Linked DNA regions of Homo sapiens. The protein of the gene in region 1 interacts with the protein of each later gene in a pairwise test. Each region holds a gene or a part of one and is shown in the gene's direction. Other genes may lie near its edges.

Region 1 (3,652 bases):
GCGGGCAGATCACTTGAGGTCAGGAGTTCAAGACCAGCCTAGGCCAACATGACAAAACCCTATCTCTACTAAAAATACAAAAATTAGTTGGGTGTGGTGGTGTGCGCCTGTAATCCCAGCTACTTGGGAGGCTGAGGTAGGAACCCAGGAGGTGGAGGTTGCAGTGAGCTGAGATCACACCACTGCACTCCACCCCCAGTGACAGAGTGACCCTGTCTCAAAAAAATAAAATAGTGCCAACGTGCAGGGCCCCATGGAGACCTGCAGAGTCTGCACAGGTGACCCTGCCATGTGGTGCACTGAGCTCCTCCCACGGCCGTTTCAACGCTCTGGGAGTCTCCGGTGCAACCTCAGCTGCAGGCCCCCAGGCTGGCGTCACACAGAACAGCACCTGCCGCAGGTGGGTGGGGGTCAGGCGCTGGGCCCCAAGCGGTGCCGGTGTCACCTGCGTCCCCTCTGCCGCAGCTCGCCCTGCACTGCCAGCAATTCTGGGCCATGTTCCTGAAGAAGGCCGCATACAGCTGGCGCGAGTGGAAAATGGTGGCGGCACAGGTCCTGGTGCCTCTGACCTGCGTCACCCTGGCCCTCCTGGCCATCAACTACTCCTCGGAGCTCTTCGACGACCCCATGCTGAGGCTGACCTTGGGCGAGTACGGCAGAACCGTCGTGCCCTTCTCAGTTCCCGGGACCTCCCAGCTGGGTCAGCAGCTGTCAGAGCATCTGAAAGACGCACTGCAGGCTGAGGGACAGGAGCCCCGCGAGGTGCTCGGTAAGGGGCATCCCGGGGGCGGGACGGGGGCATCGGGGGCCAGTCCTGCAGCCAGAGTTCGCCTTCCTGACTGCAGCAGGGTCGACATCTGGGGAGGATGGTTCTTGGCTGTTCCGAATGTACTGAGGGAGGTTCAGCAGCATCCCTGACCTTGCCCCACCCCATCATGACCATCAAACATGCCTGGAAACATTGCGGATGTCCCCTGGGTGGCAGATCACGGCACTGAGTCAGGGGAAGTGCCCTGGAGGTGCCAGAGACACTGGCATCCTGGGGCCAGGCTTTGTCAGGCGTCTTTTTACTGAAGCTGTGTCTTTCAGGATCATTCATGGGCAAAATGCAGAAGCATAGTGACTTCAAGTTACCTTTGCTTTGTGATGATGCTGGCCACAGTGTGCCTTCGTGTGACAGGGTGTTTTCTTTCAACATCTTAAAACTCACAGTTCTTGGCCAGGCACAGTAGCTCACACCTGTCATCCCACTACTTTGGGAGGCCGAGGCAGGTGGATCACTTGAGGTCAGGAGTTCGAGACCAGCCTGGTCAACATGGCAAAACTCTGTCTCTACTAAACACAAAAATTAGCTAGGTGTGGTGATGGGTACCTGTAATCCCAGCTACTCTGGAGGCTGAGGCAGGAGAATGGCTTGAACCTGGGCGGTGGAGGCTGCAGTGAGCCAAGATCGCACCATTGCACTCCAGCCTGGGTGACAGAGCAAGACTGTCTCAAAAAAAAAAAGAAAGAGTCTTGGTAGTCATAGTTGGATACTGCCCCAGGCTCAGAACAGGGACCGTGCTCTGGTTAATGGAACCTACTGGAAGGTTTTCTTATTTTGCAGCTCCTTTCCCGGTTCCTGACTGGCATTCAAAGTTCCACATACTGAATGATGACAAAACCTTGCCAGAAATTATACTCTCCTTAGGAGAAGGGTGATGGGGCGGGCAGCTCAGAGGATGCTGGCACCACTCTATTGGGTCCCTGATTAGCCATGCTCAGGTGGCAGGGGGTGCCCAGGTGTCACCTCTTCCTGTGTCCCCTGACTCTGCCATTGCTCCCCAGGTGACCTGGAGGAGTTCTTGATCTTCAGGGCTTCTGTGGAGGGGGGCGGCTTTAATGAGCGGTGCCTTGTGGCAGCGTCCTTCAGAGATGTGGGAGAGCGCACGGTCGTCAACGCCTTGTTCAACAACCAGGCGTACCACTCTCCAGCCACTGCCCTGGCCGTCGTGGACAACCTTCTGTTCAAGCTGCTGTGCGGGCCTCACGCCTCCATTGTGGTCTCCAACTTCCCCCAGCCCCGGAGCGCCCTGCAGGCTGCCAAGGACCAGTTTAACGAGTATGTGCACTGCCCGTCCCTGTCTGCCCTGGCCAGAGCCCCCAGGACTGACTGCCCTGGGCACTGCCACGGGCCCATAGATAGAGCATTGTGTCTGCCCTCCCAAAGCCCCTGGGTCTGGTGGGAAACCCCTGCCACATCCTCCTCCACCATCCACAGCCCCAACTCCCTGTGACAGCAGATCAGCTGTGGGCCATCCCATGCACTGCGGTCCTCACGGGGACCCATGAAGGCTCGGCAGGCAGCCCTGCCTTCTCCTCCTAAATCTACCTGGCTCCTGTCAGCCACTGTCCTCGCTCCACACTGCTCTCTCCAGCAGTGTGACCTGCTGGGCACATGAGCTGAGGTGATGGAGGGTGAGCAGAGCAGGACTTGGCAAGAACTGCCGTCCCTGTTCCTCAGATGGCCGCACGTCGGGAGCCTGCCATGCCATTGTGTGGGCAGGGCTACCCCCTATGCCGGCCACAGAGCCCCCAGAGCTCCTGGAACCACCCAGAGGAGGCCAAAAATTCTGTTAATTTCAGAATAGCCACTCCTCCTCAGGGCAGTGTCGTCTCCACCCACATTCCAGGCTAGGCCTAGGCCTGGCGATGGCTGCGTCCCAGCTTCTGGCTCCATCCCTGCCCCAAGAGCAGAAAAGCAACAGCCCTCGATCTGCTCTCCTTGCCATCAACTCAGGATCCTAGAATGACACACAGAGGCCAGGAGAGGCTTTCCCTTTGCCACACTCCAGGAGGAGGTGGGGCTCGGGACCTCCACACCTGGGCAAGGTCGCCGGCAGCCGTGGGGCTGAGGGCTGGGAGCGGGGTGATGAGGGAGAGTGACGCTGCCATTGTCACATGGTCAGCATAGGAATTCCAGAGGAACCGTTCTCCGGTGGGGGCAGATGTTCCCGGTATGGAACCATGGTGCTTGTGCTCTCCCATAAGCCCCTTTAGTGGTTGGGCTGCTGCCCTGCATGCCTTGGGCGGTCATAACCGAGAACCCGACCTCTCCTGCCACCCAGACGTGCTGTGCTCCGTCCCTGACCTTCTCTGTCCCCCGCAGGGGCCGGAAGGGATTCGACATTGCCCTCAACCTGCTCTTCGCCATGGCATTCTTGGCCAGCACGTTCTCCATCCTGGCGGTCAGCGAGAGGGCCGTGCAGGCCAAGCATGTGCAGTTTGTGAGTGGAGTCCACGTGGCCAGTTTCTGGCTCTCTGCTCTGCTGTGGGACCTCATCTCCTTCCTCATCCCCAGTCTGCTGCTGCTGGTGAGCGCCGGAGGGTGCTGGATCCGTTCCCCTGCAGACCGCAGAGGGCTTGCCCTGGGACCCCTGTGCAGAACCGGAACCAGCTGGGCAGCCCCTAGGCCGGCAGCTCGGCCCGACTCAGGGAGGACAGCTGGAATCCCCTGGCGGCTGCCCCCTCGCCTCCTCCCTGCACCCTCAGCCTTTACCCTCCATGCATGGGCAGCACCCGGAGCAGCCATCCTGGTTACAGCTCCGGGTGCAAGGGGACGAGGGGAAACTGGGACAGAGAGGGTCCTGGGGCTGAAAGCCACCGCGGGGGC
Region 2 (3,652 bases), on another chromosome or scaffold:
CATACAGGTTATTTTCCTGTACCGTATATAAAATAAACAGCAGTTAAAATTCAACGTTAGTAAAAAACATACTTTTATGACAAATTCAATTGAAAGTTAAACAGAGTTAACTGTTCTCAGCCCATCCTCCCTCACCCCCGGAAAGTACAGCTTAAAGTTTTAAGCTGAATCAGATGCATGCACTTTTGCTACAGCAGGTAGAAAGACAAACACTCTTATTTCATACTGATGATTTGGCTTGTTTCTATGTAGGAGTGTTTTCATGGTTGAGTTAGTTGGCTAGTTTCTGTTAAACAATAGTAATAAGCACTAACATTTATTGAGTGTTTTCTTTATGCCAGGAACTGTTCTAAACACTTCACATGTATTTAATCATCATCCATATAAACTCTATTAAAGAAATCCTATAAAACAGGTACTATTATCCCCACTTTACAGAGGACAGAGAAGCAGAGGGATAAGTAATCTGTTCAAGATTACAAAGTAAGTGGCAGAGACATGATTTAAACCCAGGAGGACTGATTCTAGAATTCACACTCTTAACCTTTATTATTCCGCTTTCTCAAATGTCAATGAGAAATCTGACCAGCCAAAACTGTCATATTTGGCATACAGAACCAACATTTATACCTTAAATAACCCCATGTAACTGTTCAGAGGATCACAGAATTTTTTCCCCCCTAGGGACAAGTTAGAACTCAGTATTCTTTTCAGTTAAAGTTATATTTCATATTAAGTGGAAAAGAATACTTGTGCGTCAACCTATACTTGTACAAATCCTTCAGATGACTGCAAGATCTCTTTTCTGTGGAAGGTATTAGACCTAGGCCCATACCTATGAAGTTGTTGAACCTTGTCTGGGAGACAAATAAAAATTTATATAACTGAATGACAACTCCTACCATCCCTCATGCATGGCAGAATTTAAAGCAGTCTTCATTTTAAACAATAAAATATTTGTGCTACTGATATTCTTTAGATAATTAAACAATTGTCTATAAGACAAGACCCATCTAGGACTTGTTTTGTTGCTTTAATATTCAGTCTGTAATTATTTCAGGCATTGACAGAAATGCTATTATTCTTTCTTAATTTTAATGAAAGAGTCTAATTTAGAGCCCCAGAATAACAGTAATTTAGTTGAAGAACCTAGTAACTTGTTTCCCTCAGACTGACCCTTAGATACACATTTCTTTCTTTCCATTTAAGTATGTAACTGTTTCACTTCATTATTTCAAATTTTCAATGTCTTAAGTCTTTGTGGAAGTATATTGGACAGAATACATTATAACAAATAATGTAATTAGAAATTCTTAAAACCAAAACTCCTAAAATAAACGTTTTGAAATAAAGTATTTCACCATACCAACTTAACCTTTAATTTAGTTATTCTAAACAGAAATAAACTTTTCTGACTTTGAGCTAAATTAATACTAACTAAAAAATGATTTTAGAATGAAAGTCTCTAGACTAGGAAAAGCCCCTTTATAAAACAAGTGTGTCTAGAACTGTTTTTAATTTCTATAAATTCTTAGATTACCCAAATATATTAGGCATTTAAAAAAGCCTCTTTTTCTTTTTTGTGTTGTATATAAGGTTTCTATTAATTTAATGCAGTTATCTTTTTCTTTTATATTAGTTTCATTAAAACTATCCACCAGTGTTTCACGAAACTTGAAATGAGAAAGGCTTGGAATTGTAAAGATTCATCTCTCTTATAAATTTCAGTCTCATTCTTTCTTAAAGAAAATTCTGTATCACATCTCAATATTTCTGTTAACAATAAAGCACTAACTGTAATAAGAAAATTCTAGTGAATTTTAAGTGGGAATGAGTTTATAAATTCTGTTTAAAGTGAGGCTAACAGGGCTTCATAGGGTTACTTAAATCAGCACTAAAAAACTTTCCTTCTTAGCCCACAATTAGGAGTATGTGGATCAGATGGTCAAATTCCAAAGACACGTACTTTTTATATGAATTTTCTTATGGCTTCCTGCTTATGGCAACTAGATTTATGACTAGAATTTTCCAAACCTTAATCTTCAGAAGTATAATCCATAACTAGAATAGCTAAATAGACAGGTTTAAATAGTTGGCAAACTATTTTAAAAGATGTTACAGAGAGAGTAAGGACTTCAAGGAAGGAAATCTAAGATATAACACAATAATTACCTGCCTTTTAAATCCTTAACTGCAATCAATATCTCTGATTATAGCTCTAGACGAGTATTTTCCTACCACCCTACTTACAGTCCTAAATCTAGAACTTCAGCTCAAGATGTACCCTCATTTTTAGTAGTTTCCACTGCAAACTCTAAAATGATTCTTTTCACTATACTTAGACTGTTAGTTCGCTTTGAAGCTGCCTGTGTCCAAGGTCCTTTTCCACTAAATGACAAAAAATCTGAATGCTATGGCTAAGAGTGAGAAAATCCAATTGATTAGATTTTCTCCAAACACCAGTTTCTCTGACTTAATTTATTCTGAGAGGCCTCCCATTAGTTCCTTTCCATGAGACATTCCAAGTGCCTATAACCAACCCTACAACAGGAAACTTAGGTGCATCTTTTAAGACTCAGACACAAACCTTACCAGAAAGTCTTCCAAAGCACTGCTTCTCAAATGTTAATTTGCATACGAATCACCTGGAAACCTTATTTAACTGCAGAGTCTGATACAGTAGGTCTGAGATGAGACCCAAGAGCCTGCATATCTAAGTACCCAGGTGATGCCGATCCTCACTCTCCATCTTAAGAGCAAACTCTGAGTGGCAGTTCTAAATAACACTTTCAGATAACATTTACATTTCAATAAATAAATGCCTCCCCTCCTTACCTCTATATTCAGACTTAATTATACCTGAATTTACTCATCTGCAAGATCAATGGTAATCTCTAAGGTTCCTTCCAGCTCAATAAATCTAAAATTTACCACCTCTATCCCTTCCTACCCCCAATTCAACAAGCAGGCAAAGTTTATTTACAGTAATACACTGAAAAGTATGAATGACCCTTTCCACTTGATGCTTTAATCCCTTTTTAAGAAGCTGCTGAACATAGAACTAAGTCCCAATCATTTATTCTTTCTGAGTAAAAGTTTGTGCTGATTTTGTTATTTTGTTCCTAGGAAGAAATATTTTAATATTCTTATTCAGAATGCCACATACCAACTCTGGAAACAGAAGGCACCAAAAAGTAGATGTGTCAGCCTTGCTACCTTCTGGATACTTTGTCAAGTGCCCAGATATTTTTCACTGAAATCCTACCTGACTTTAAAAAAATCTCCTACTTGATGCTTGAAAATAACAGCCAAATCTATCTAAAAACTCTGCCCCTAAATTATGCTTTTTTTTTTTTTGGTCTGAGATTTTAATCTCTCTCCACCCCCAGGCTCCTTAAATTTTAAACAGTTAACAATAGAAGAGTCTCTTGTTGTTCTGTAATCCTGAGATGATTATTCTGGTTTTCCTTCAATTATGACAATCACTTTATACCTGTCAAAGTCAGATATACCTGCAATAGCCAGAAGAAAAGTAGATTACATTTTATCAGTGGACATATAACAATCAAATCCTAAAAGAGACTTAGATAATCTCACATGCATGACATCTGTTCTCTACAGGAGTTAAACTGGATTCTAATGGAAATATTCT

The links. The genes of interacting proteins can lie anywhere in the genome.
Region 2: the proteins of ABCA3 (region 1) and HTR2B interact in a two-hybrid assay, tested with the Homo sapiens proteins (one large-scale study listed by BioGRID and IntAct).

The regions. Positions count from the first base shown.
Region 1 is NC_000016.10:2,285,143-2,288,794, reverse strand, and holds part of ABCA3 (phospholipid-transporting ATPase ABCA3), read left to right. Parts: intron 1-465; coding exon 466-769; intron 770-1,827; coding exon 1,828-2,101; intron 2,102-3,148; coding exon 3,149-3,353; intron 3,354-3,652. UniProt on the Homo sapiens protein: Catalyzes the ATP-dependent transport of phospholipids such as phosphatidylcholine and phosphoglycerol from the cytoplasm into the lumen side of lamellar bodies, in turn participates in the lamellar bodies biogenesis and homeostasis of pulmonary surfactant.
Region 2 is NC_000002.12:231,114,896-231,118,547, reverse strand, and holds part of HTR2B (5-hydroxytryptamine receptor 2B), read left to right. Parts: intron 1-3,652. UniProt on the Homo sapiens protein: G-protein coupled receptor for 5-hydroxytryptamine (serotonin). Also functions as a receptor for various ergot alkaloid derivatives and psychoactive substances.